Linked DNA regions of Homo sapiens: region 1 is linked to region 2. The links come from fine-mapping of genetic effects on gene expression. Tissue or cell type: macrophages. Region 2 holds a variant in brackets; the other region holds the start of a gene. All regions are shown on one strand. Distances are from middle to middle.

The links. PIP is the estimated chance that this variant, and not a neighbour inherited with it, causes the effect.
Region 1: it holds the start of VEPH1, and the variant in region 2 is the best candidate, but not a certain one, in a credible set for the expression of VEPH1 in macrophages (Alasoo 2018, PIP 0.53).

What each region holds. Positions count from the first base shown.
Region 1 is chr3:157,500,540-157,505,931 of GRCh38, reverse strand. VEPH1 (ventricular zone expressed PH domain containing 1) reads left to right here and starts at 2,516. Exons shown (of 14, transcript NM_001167912.2): 1 at 2,516-2,655. RefSeq lists a silencer at 2,489-2,723.
Region 2 is chr3:157,520,701-157,526,092 of GRCh38, reverse strand. No RefSeq gene overlaps it. Among named protein-coding and RNA genes, the nearest start is that of VEPH1, 20 kb to the right of the region's middle. The variant T/GAT (reference allele first, on the strand shown) is at 2,404.

The sequences.
Region 1 (5,392 bases), 20 kb after region 2:
GGTTGCAGTGAGCCAAGATCGCACCACTGCACTTCAGCCTGGGCAATAGGGCGAGACTTCTTCTCAAAAAAAAAAAGAAAGAAAGAAAGAAAGAAAGAAAGAAAGAAACTTGACTGTCATAGTTCATGCCACATGCTATTTTGCTGAGCCAAAAGGGAGTTCCTGGCTGTGTCTGAGTTTTTGTGCCTGCAATGGACTCTTCAAAGCTGGAAGGCTGACCATAGAAATGGTGTGCTTACAGGAGCTTTCATGATTACAGGTAAGAAAAACTGTTTATAGAAAATGAAATCATTCAGAAGTTCTCAGTGTTTATATGTAACTCACCTATGTAAGTTGCCTTAGAATTTACCTCTTTTCTGTAAAGAAAACGTCTTTGTCTGATTTTGTGGTTACAGACAATGTTTTATTTCAAGTTTCCCAAAGGAGGGGAAGGAGTGAGAGTTAGACAAGAACAGAGGGGAAAAATAAAGACAAAGCAATACTCTGTAAAACTGATTACTCAAATACATTTTTGACAAACAGGTGTAATATCTGGTTGCTGTTGCCATTCTGCCACCAAGAAACCTGATGACTTCATTTGGGCCTCTTCAACCAGCTGCCCCTAAAGCTAGCAAGCTCCACCCTTCAGTGTCCACTGATAAATTCCTTAATAGCGTAAGTGATTTTAGGAAATTTTTGAAAATTGTGTATGAATGGATGGATTCCATGACAAGGGTATTGAGGTCAAATGGTATGTGGCTAGGTACTGCCAGGCAAGTCTAAGAGATTAAATTTAATTATTTTGGGGGACTCAAGTATTGAGGAAATGACTATGTAGCTGGTTAGGAAAAAATAATTTAGAAGGTCCTGTTTTCAGGTACACTGAATGACTACATTCCTTTCCAGGCCTTTCTTGCATCTGCTAGTTGTCAGAGGAAGCCTGTGGTTGTCACTGAAGGAGCCCATTTGTCATAGATAGTTCCTGTTGAGTCTCTTAGTCCACTTAATTTTCAATGAGCTGCACCCAGGAGAGACTTCCCACAAAACTAGGTTAGGCTGATTCTGTCAGGTGGAAATTTTTTAATGGTAAATGGCAGAAAACCCAATCTAAAATCACTTAAGCTATTAAGGAATTTATTAGTGTACACTGAAGGGTAGGTCTTGCTAGCATTAGGGGCAGGTGGTTTAAGGGGCCCAAATGAAGTCAACAGTTTTCTTGGTGGCAAGAGGGCAATAGCAGCCAGACCTTACACCTTCTTATCATCAAGTCCAGCAGCTTAGACTTTTTACTCCCAAAGCTGAGCTTTCATCATTGTCCTCTCATTGGCCTAGAAGGGGTCGCACACCTGCCCTGCATTAGTCACTATGATCACAGGAATGCAATTACTCTAATTTGGGTAAGACCAATTAAGGCCCATCCTGTTTATGGGCATCAGCTGTACCCAAAGGACATGGTTTCCCAAGGGAAATTTGGGTGCAGTTTTGACTAAAAGTAGAGTAAGTGAATGTTGAGTGTCAAACACAAGAGAAAGTAATCTTCACCCCATGAGTAGTCCTTTTAATTGGACTAGTAATTTTTTTACATGCAGCATGATTGCCACTGAATGGAAATATTTTTATTTCCACTTGTACATCTTACACCTGACTTTCCCCACTGCAGCCCCCGCCCCCACCCTCCCTGTTACCCTCACATGGTTTGACTGAAAGTTCCGGTCGGGAGAGACTCAGAAATGTTTTATCACTTTATGTGAAGGCAAAACCTCAGATCAATAAGGGAAGAAAGCCCATGCCATACACTTAAAGGGAGAGAAGAGCCTCTAGATATAATAATCCACTGGGCACCACCAATTAATTTATGCATTAGAGGTTTTAAAGTGCATTCTCCTTAAAAGAGAGAGAGAGATGAGGCGATGTGGGAGTGCTTGTGAGGGATCCCCAATGAATTAGGTTTGAAAAGATGAGTTCTATATTTGGATGGTAAAAGGAAGGAGTTAGAAATTTGAGTGGATGCAAGAAGGAACCATGAGGGTTCAGAAAAATCTCTAGTGCTACCAGGGAAGTTTCATTAAGTTGTTGTGTGTTTCGTAAGCAATACCAATAGTATAATTAGACTTTTGCTCCTTTACCCTAGCTATTTTGCTTCTCTTGTGGTATTTTTCTTCTATCATATTTGGCTTAAATACCATTTCATTCCAGTGCTTCCCTTCCTGCATTCCCTCCCCAAGCCTTTTTCCTGATGCCTGCTAAAAGGCCCCACATCTGATATTAACCTAAAACTTCCTTGATTTCTTAAAGTGAGTTATTCATTAACAGAACCTAAATTACTGGTTGTTAGGCAAATCTAATTCTTTCAAACTACAGATCTGCTCAGAGAAATCTGTAAATCTAGTGTAGAAATAAGTGAAGCTTTGCGTCAATTGTTAGGTCTAAGCAGAAGTTTGGGAGAGAGAAGAAAAGTTACTCATTTGCCTGATTCCGCACGGTGAGTCAATGGGGAGGGAATGAAATGTACCACTGGCTTGACAGGCAGCTCAGGGAGACGCGGCTGCAGCCCACAGGACTGGGCAGCAGCTGCAAGGCTGCCTCTGAGCATGGTCATGGGTCCCAGCTGCAGTGCTCTAAAGATCAAGGATTTTGCCTTCTATTTTCTATGACCAGAGATTCCTGTGCAAAGAGGTATGGCTATCTTCTTTCATGACCTTTTGTTCAGCAAAAACAAAAGCTAATTAAAGTAAATGTCAGAGGCTGCAAAGAAGCAAAGAGTGGGGGATAGGAGAATGGAGCTGAGAAACTTCCAGGGGCTGGCTGATTATGCAGATAAAGCACATTTGGGAGCTGTGTGTCTAGCCATGTATGCAGGCATTTCGGTTATTAGAGTAAAAATGCCACTTCTCTGTGGGTTATTAAAACATGTCTCTAGGCCTCAGGAGCAGAAAGCTGTGCTTCTAGATTCATATCATGTGCATTTTTGTTTTACTCCGTAATAATCTAGTCTCATTTCTATTTTATACTTTTGTTTACTTCAATCAACATTTTGCAACCAGCAAAGAAACTGGCTCTGCCTACGGATTTTCAAAGAAAATTAAATATTATAGCATCATTACAGTCAGTGGGTTGAACAGGGTCACCATTACTGTTTGTTGCTGCTGCCGTTTTTTCCTTTGGTGTTTCAGATATCTTACAAATCATAATTAAATCTAACCACTTTTTTACTCTTTCAGATACACACTTAAATTGTTGTAGTAATCAACCATTGGATTAAATGACATTTATATATTTTTGATTTAAAAAGCAGAAAAAAATATTTAGAGAAATATTTGAGTTGGTCATATAGATATTTGGTACATGAAACTTAAATGTAAATGAAGATACATTTAACATTGAGTTTTCCATGTAGTTTGAGAGTTTTGGTACATTTTCTGGAAGAACAAACCCACGAATTTGAATTAGGATTTTTCAGCAAGATTTGTATTATTCCAGAGCAAAAATGACCAACAAAGTCAACATTTACAGGTGAAAATGAATACACTATAAAATTATGACAAGTCACAAAAGCCTTGATTTTAGAAAGTTTATTAGACTTGAAGATAAGTGTTTCTCATCCTTTTTGAAGGAAATGTTTCCTATTTGTGTTTTAATAAGTTGAAATAGGTAATCAAAATTAAGTAGTTTTTTGGGCTCTTGACTAAATAGGTCACCAAATCTATTTTTTTCATGTACTTATGAAATAAGCCTGCTACAAACTTAGATCGTATGTACTCTAGCAAAAAGACAGGGCTGAAGCCTTTAGCATTGCTTAGAATAAGCCAGACTCAGAGGCTTTCAGTAGAAGTGAAGTGTAGCAGCACGCCACAGCCAAGGAAGCCCAGAGACATCCAGGGAACAATAGACATCTTGTGGGAAGGGCTGAAATGTATGCAGCCAATTCCCATGGGAACGCCTGTAGTCCTTTCACGCTGTGTGAAAAAGATGCTCCTTCAAAAGAATCTGTAATCCTTTCTTTCAAGGGAAAAATCTGAGAACTTTATTGAAAGTTTCTAGAGCCCAAATGGGTCTAAGTTTGTTAATGAGCATTTTTAATACAGGTGAATAAAATGAAAATGTTTTGATGCAGAGTAATGTAGTCTAAAGCGTAATGTAAATAAATATTGTCATTCTAGAATTTTCTGAAGTGAGGAAGCCAGGGTATACCCTAACCTAAGTTGCAAGCTAGAGGCTGAATTCTTCAGAATAAGTTGGTTTCTTGAGTTAATTATGGTGATTGAAATCTCCCCCAAGAGTTTCAATTATTCTATAGGCAGTATCCCAATAGTGTGGCGATTAAGTCCTCCAGTTCATGTATATTTTCATTTAGCAGAATCTACAGATGCATAATAGAGTAAGCCACTAATGTTTTATTAGTGGGCATTGAGTGTACGTCACCTTGAAAAGTAGTAAAGAAAGTAGCTGGAGCCCTGGAGGGCCACTCCTTTCTCACTAATAAACACGGGAAGGAGTGCTACACTTCCATGGAAAACTCAGGTGTTTGGATTACCCAGCCACAAAAAGTTTGAGATACATTGTATTCTAGCCCATTTCTGCTCTGTAAAAACATTCACTGTTATTGTTCAACCTTGGTGTGGGTAGGATCACCGTAAAACTATCTCTCCAGGAAACAAGATAAGGTTGCCAAAAAATCAACAGGGACCCATTCAAGAGAATGAAGTTTACAGATGAAAAGTGAACAACCCAGAGGTAAGGACAGGATGACTAAGATAGAGAAAGGACAACAAAGATATAAATATGGCTCAAATGGAAACAACCTAAACATCTTTAGCTCTGTGAACCCAATTTAGTGAACAGTACAGTCATGTATTAATTTTTAAAAGGTATGGCATGGGGATGTGTTAACTGGTGGACCATCTATAGGAATAATAGTACTCTTAAGGATATGATTGCTGGCACTTTTTCTGTGGTTGCCATATGCCAGGCTCTGTGTTAAATGTTTTATATCATCTCCTTAAACCTCCCAACAACCCATATCACAATCCTCAGGAGCAAAGGAGGAATTCCAGGCTCAGGGAGTCTAATTAACCTGCCCACATTTACACTGCAGGTAATGGCATAGCTGAGCTTGGAATCCAGTTGAGTCTAGATTCCCATACTCTTATCACTCTGCTCTTCTTACTGGAGTTCCATAGAGTGTCCAATTCAGGACTCTACACCCTTTAAAAAAATAAAACTGGATAAAAATCTAGGGATTAAAAATCAGTAATAATGAATAGAGGATTAAAAGGGAAGGCTAAAGCAATATCATCTATTCCATTAAAAGACGAAACTTCATTAGTATATTGTAAATTAGAAAAACTACTAATGAAAAAATACAGCTACTCATGAATGACTGGATTCTTGATTTTTATAAAGGAATTCTTCA
Region 2 (5,392 bases):
CCTGTGCTGCTAACATATTGCCTAATATACTTAAATATAATATTTTCTGTCCTTGCATTTTATATGAAAAGGATCATTCTATATGGATTCTTCTGTGATTTGCTCTTTTCACTCAACATTATGATTTTAATGTTTATACAAGTTAATATGCATAGATTTAGTTAATTTTATTCCTACGTGCTATTTCAGTGAATCTATCACAATAATTTATCCACTATACTGCTTATGGACATGTGGATTGTTTTTTGTTTTTGAATGTGAATAAGGCTGTTTTTACGGATCTCCTGGTGTTCACGGGCAAGAGCTTCCCTTGGTAGACACCTGGGACTGGCATTGCCAGGGACAGGCACGTGCTTCTTCCGTGTCATAAAGTACTGTCATATAGTTTTCCAGAACAGTCTTATCAATTTGCATTCCCACCATTGACAATAGTAACAAAAATAAGGTACCTAGCAAAAAAATGTACAAAGCCAAATATGAAATAAAATAATTTATTGAAAAACATCAAAGAAGACCTAAATAATTTTGGAATTATGGCAACCTTATGAATGTGAAAATTTAATGTAAAAATGTTAATTCTTCCCAAATTATCTGTACATTTCATACTCTTTCTCTCCTTCTTTCTTTCTTCCCTTCCTTTCCCTTCCCTTTCCTTCCCTTTCCTTTTCTGTCTCACTCTGTCACCCAGGCTGGAGGGCAGTGACATGATCACAGCTCACTGCAGCCCTGTCTCAACCCAGGGTCAGTCAATCCTCCCACCTTAGCCTCCTGAGTAGCTGCCACTACAGGTGCATGCTCCCATACCTGGCTAATTTTTCTATTTTTTTTGTAGAGATGAGGTTTCACAATAATTCCCAGGCTGGTCTTGAAGTCCTGGGCTCAAGCCATCTGCCCACCTCAGCCTCCCAAAGTGATGGTATTACAGGTGTGAGCTGCCACACCTGACCCGTACTATTTAATTTAAATTTAGATAGAGTTTTACATGGAAGTTGCAATCTGATTCTGAAGTTTACATGGAAATGCTAAGGGCCAAGAATCACTGGAATAATTTTGAGAAAGGAAAAATAAGGCAATGTGCTCTACCAAATATGGTAATTGAAACAATGTGGTATTGGTGCAGGGATAGACTATATTCTAAAAGAACAAAACATATTATAGATTCTAGAATCAGACTCTTCCCTAGAAGAAAATGGTATATGTGAAGATGGCAGTACAGCTCACTGGAGAAGGGATTCACTCCTAAAACAAATGGAACTCTACTAATTGATTATACAAAAATAAAATTTTTTAAATACAGATCCTTATATTCCACCACAAACAACTGTCAATTCTTTGTGGATTAAGGACTTAAATGTGAAATGCAAAACTTTAAAAACTTTTAGGAGACAACAAAGGAGAATATATTTATAATCATGTAGAGAAGGATTTTTAAAATAAGACACAAAAAAGCACAAAGCATAAAGAAAAATTTTATAATTTTGACTACGTTAAAATAAATACATCAAAGGAGATTTAAAAATATCATAAATAGATCAAACTTTAAGCCACAGACTGGGAGGACATATTTGAGATACATATACAGGAAAAAGAACACATAAAATACATACAAAGAGCACTTATGCATCAAGAAGAGAAAGATCAAGAATCAAATGGAAAAATAGGCAAAAGATATGAATAAACACTTCACAGAAGAAAATGTGAATGGCAAATAAATACTGAAAGATGTCCAAATTCATTGATGAGGACAAATTTGAAAACAAGCACTATTAACTGTTAATAATGATGTAAAGAACTCTCACCCACTGCAGATGAGAATGTAAATCTGTACAGCTATTTGGAAAATAAATAAGCATTTTCAGTAAAGTGAGATATTCACATATCCTATGACCCAACAATGTCATTGCCAAGAGAAACACTTGCATGTTTGCATTAGGAGACATGTATAAGGATGTCCAAAGCTGACTCTTGCAGTTGCAATAGCTGGGAACAAGTCATATGTCCATCAAAAAAGAAAGGATAAAATGAGAGAAAGACATACAGTGGAATACTATGCAACTGTAAAAAGTAAATCATCCACAGCATCATAGGATGAATCACAAGAATGGAATGTTGAATGAAAAACATTGAGTCACAGAAGAATGTGTACTACATTACCACATTAATATTAATATCTCAAAACATGTAAAATAGAGAAACAAATAGGTTATAAAACTATGACGCAAAAAGCAAGAGAATGATGATATACAATTCAAGCAGTGCATTATTTCTAGATGAGAAGAAGGAGGAAAAATTGGGGAGTGCATACATTCTAATTGCAGTTAGTGTCTATTCCTTAGCCTGAGTCATGAGTATATGAGTGTTAATGTCATCATTCTTTAAATTATATATTATACATAATCTATA[T/GAT]TATGTATAATATATAATGTTATTCTTTATATATAAATATACATTACATATGCTCATTTGTATATGTTGTAGAACTCACAATTTTAAAAAAAGAAATTATGCAAGTAACAAATATGGCAAAATTTGTGAAAGTGTCACTTGATTAACCAAAGAAAGGGTCATTCTTTTCCAGAACGAAAAAGGAGCTGTGACAGCAGGATATGCACTGCCAGAAGTTCCAGCAATTCTTTGGGGACACCAGTGCATACATAAACATTTGGCAACTGACACGAAATAGATATTTAATAGAGTTGGAAAAGGGCCGGGCATGGTGGCTCACACCTGTAATCCCAGCACTTTGGGAGGCCGAGGCGGGTGGATCACTTGAGGTCAGTTCGAGACCAGCCAGGCCAACATGGTGAAACTACAAATACAAAAGAACTAGCTGGGCATGGTGGCTCATGCCTGTCATCCTAGCTACTTGGGAGGCCGAGGCAGGAGAATTGCTTGAACCTGGGGCACGGAAGTTGCAGTGAGCCAAGATCGCACCTCTGCCCTCCAGCCTGAGTGACAGAGTGATACTCTAAAAAAAGAAAGAAAGAAAGAAAGAAAAATAGTAATAACAATAATAAAGTTGGAAAAGGAAGTAAGTGAGGAACAGAGGGGAGAAAGGCAGAGAAAGGGGAAGAAAGAGGCTAGCTGCCCTCAGTTTGTAAATAATTGATTCTACACAATAAATAGATTCCTTGTTTGGAAAGAGTTCAGTGCTTATTTTCAAGGAGGGAGAGCTCTATTCTCTTGTAGAATTTAGCCCATTGTGTCTTCATGTTACTAATGGCTATACTGACAGCTATAGTACACCATGGAGACTTGCTTGTCAAACATTAACTACTATGCCATGTTATTATAGATTTTTTTTCTGATAGAGTAATCACTACTACTTATATGGAATGACAGAAGCTGCCTGATAGTATTTAATCTAATTTGAAAATACAAGAAATAGCCCAGCTATGTAAGACATAGAAAGACCCAAAGGGATTTTTTTTTTTTAAGTCAGAACAGGAAAGGAACCATTAAACATATAACTGAACTCTGACAGACTGCACCTTTTGCTTTGGTTTCATGGGAATTGGGGTTGCAGGTAAATAATACAGTATGTTGATTGTATGCTTGAATCTGCATTTTCAATTAAGTTTTAAAAGTTGAATAAATACAAAATAATATTCACCACATATTTCTTAAGTACAAACAGGATAAAAAAAGAAAACTTACGTACATATCATGCAGCTTTTAGAAAATAGAACATTAATGCAATCTTAAAGCTCTTCGTGTATTCTAGCTCCTCAACATTCCATTATCCTATGAGAAATAATGACTATCTTGAATTTTATTTATATCATTCCATGTTTTTATTTCTAGTGTTATATATTTATACATATTCTTAAACATTAACATCTTTTCTTACACATTTTTGAACTTCATGTAAATATAATCATAGTGCATTTTTCTACTATAACTTGTTTTTTTAATTCAGCACCCTGTTTTTGAGATTCATCCATGTTAATGTGTCTATAATTATGTATGTGTCTATAATTCATTCATTTTCATTGCTCTATATAATCTCACTGTATGAATATCACAACTTATTTACTCATTTTCTTATTAATGGTTATTTAAGTTGTTTTCAGTTTTTTGTTATGACACTGTGAAGTTTTTTGTATATGTGTCCTGGTTTTCATGTACAGGTTTCTCCAGAACTATTCCTAAGGAGTGAAATTATTAGGTTATATGACACGTGCATCTGCAACTTCATTAGATAATCTAAATTGTTTTCTAAAGCAATTTACTAATTTGTACTCCCACTAGTATTGATTGAAAGTTCCTCTTGTCCATATCGTCACTGGTCACTTTTTTTTATTTTGAGACGGAGAATGCCCTGTCACCCAGGCTGGAGTGCAATGGCGCAATCTCGGCCCACTGCAACCTCTGCCTCCTGCGTTCAAGCAATTCTCTGCCTCGGCCTCCCAAGTAGCTGGGATTACAGACGCCTGCCACCATGCTGGCTGATTTTTTTTTTTTTTTGTATTTTTAGTAGAGATGGGGTTTCATCATCTTGGCCAGGCTTGTCTTGAACTCCTGACCTCATGATCCACCCATCTCGGCCTCCCAAAGTGCTGGGATTACAGGCGTGAGCCACCGCGCCTGGCCTGGTCACTTTTGACACTGCTATGGGTTAGTATTCAAGTCCTCTGATGTATCCACTTAAATCAGCATAGCTGTGATTTAGTCATTATACAGATCACACACTTAGATCTACACCCACTACCTGAAGTCAGTGGCTCATATTGAATTTGGCTATGGTCTCCTCTGGATATTGATCAAAAAGCAGGACTTTAAAAGGTGGATAATTCTTGTTTTTCCAATAAAGTGCTGATTGACAAATATGAGAAAAAAAACATGATGTTAGTAGTACACATAAAATATTGTATTTGGCACTGCTGGAAAAATCACCCAAGTTCTGTGGGTTTCTGACTTTGTAACTACAAGATATTTGGATCAAAGTATACTTATTTTAGGTGACATATGAATTCATAATCCAGGGGAAAAAGTCTCATAAAAATAACAACATTAAATATATCTTACAAAAGAACCATTTAACTTGGCAAAATATTAATGAAATAAAACACATGGGTTAGATTTCCCTTAAAATACACATAGGAATAAAATGTGCTCAACAAAATGTGCTCTGGCTCTTGCCAAACAAGAAACATCTGAAAATAACCTAAGAGACTTTCTTAAACCACAGCATGTTTCTGGCTTTGTCTGCCACTTAATTAAGTGTTGCTTTAATAATGAAGCATATTAGGGATGGGGGTTGCATCTAGTTCACAAACCATTCTTTATGGGGTAGTAAAGATAAAGACAATAGTACCCACATTTAAAAAAAATTAATTTCATGCTCTTGCCTTCTTAGCATATGTTTCTTATCAGCCTTAGTAGTTGTTTTCTG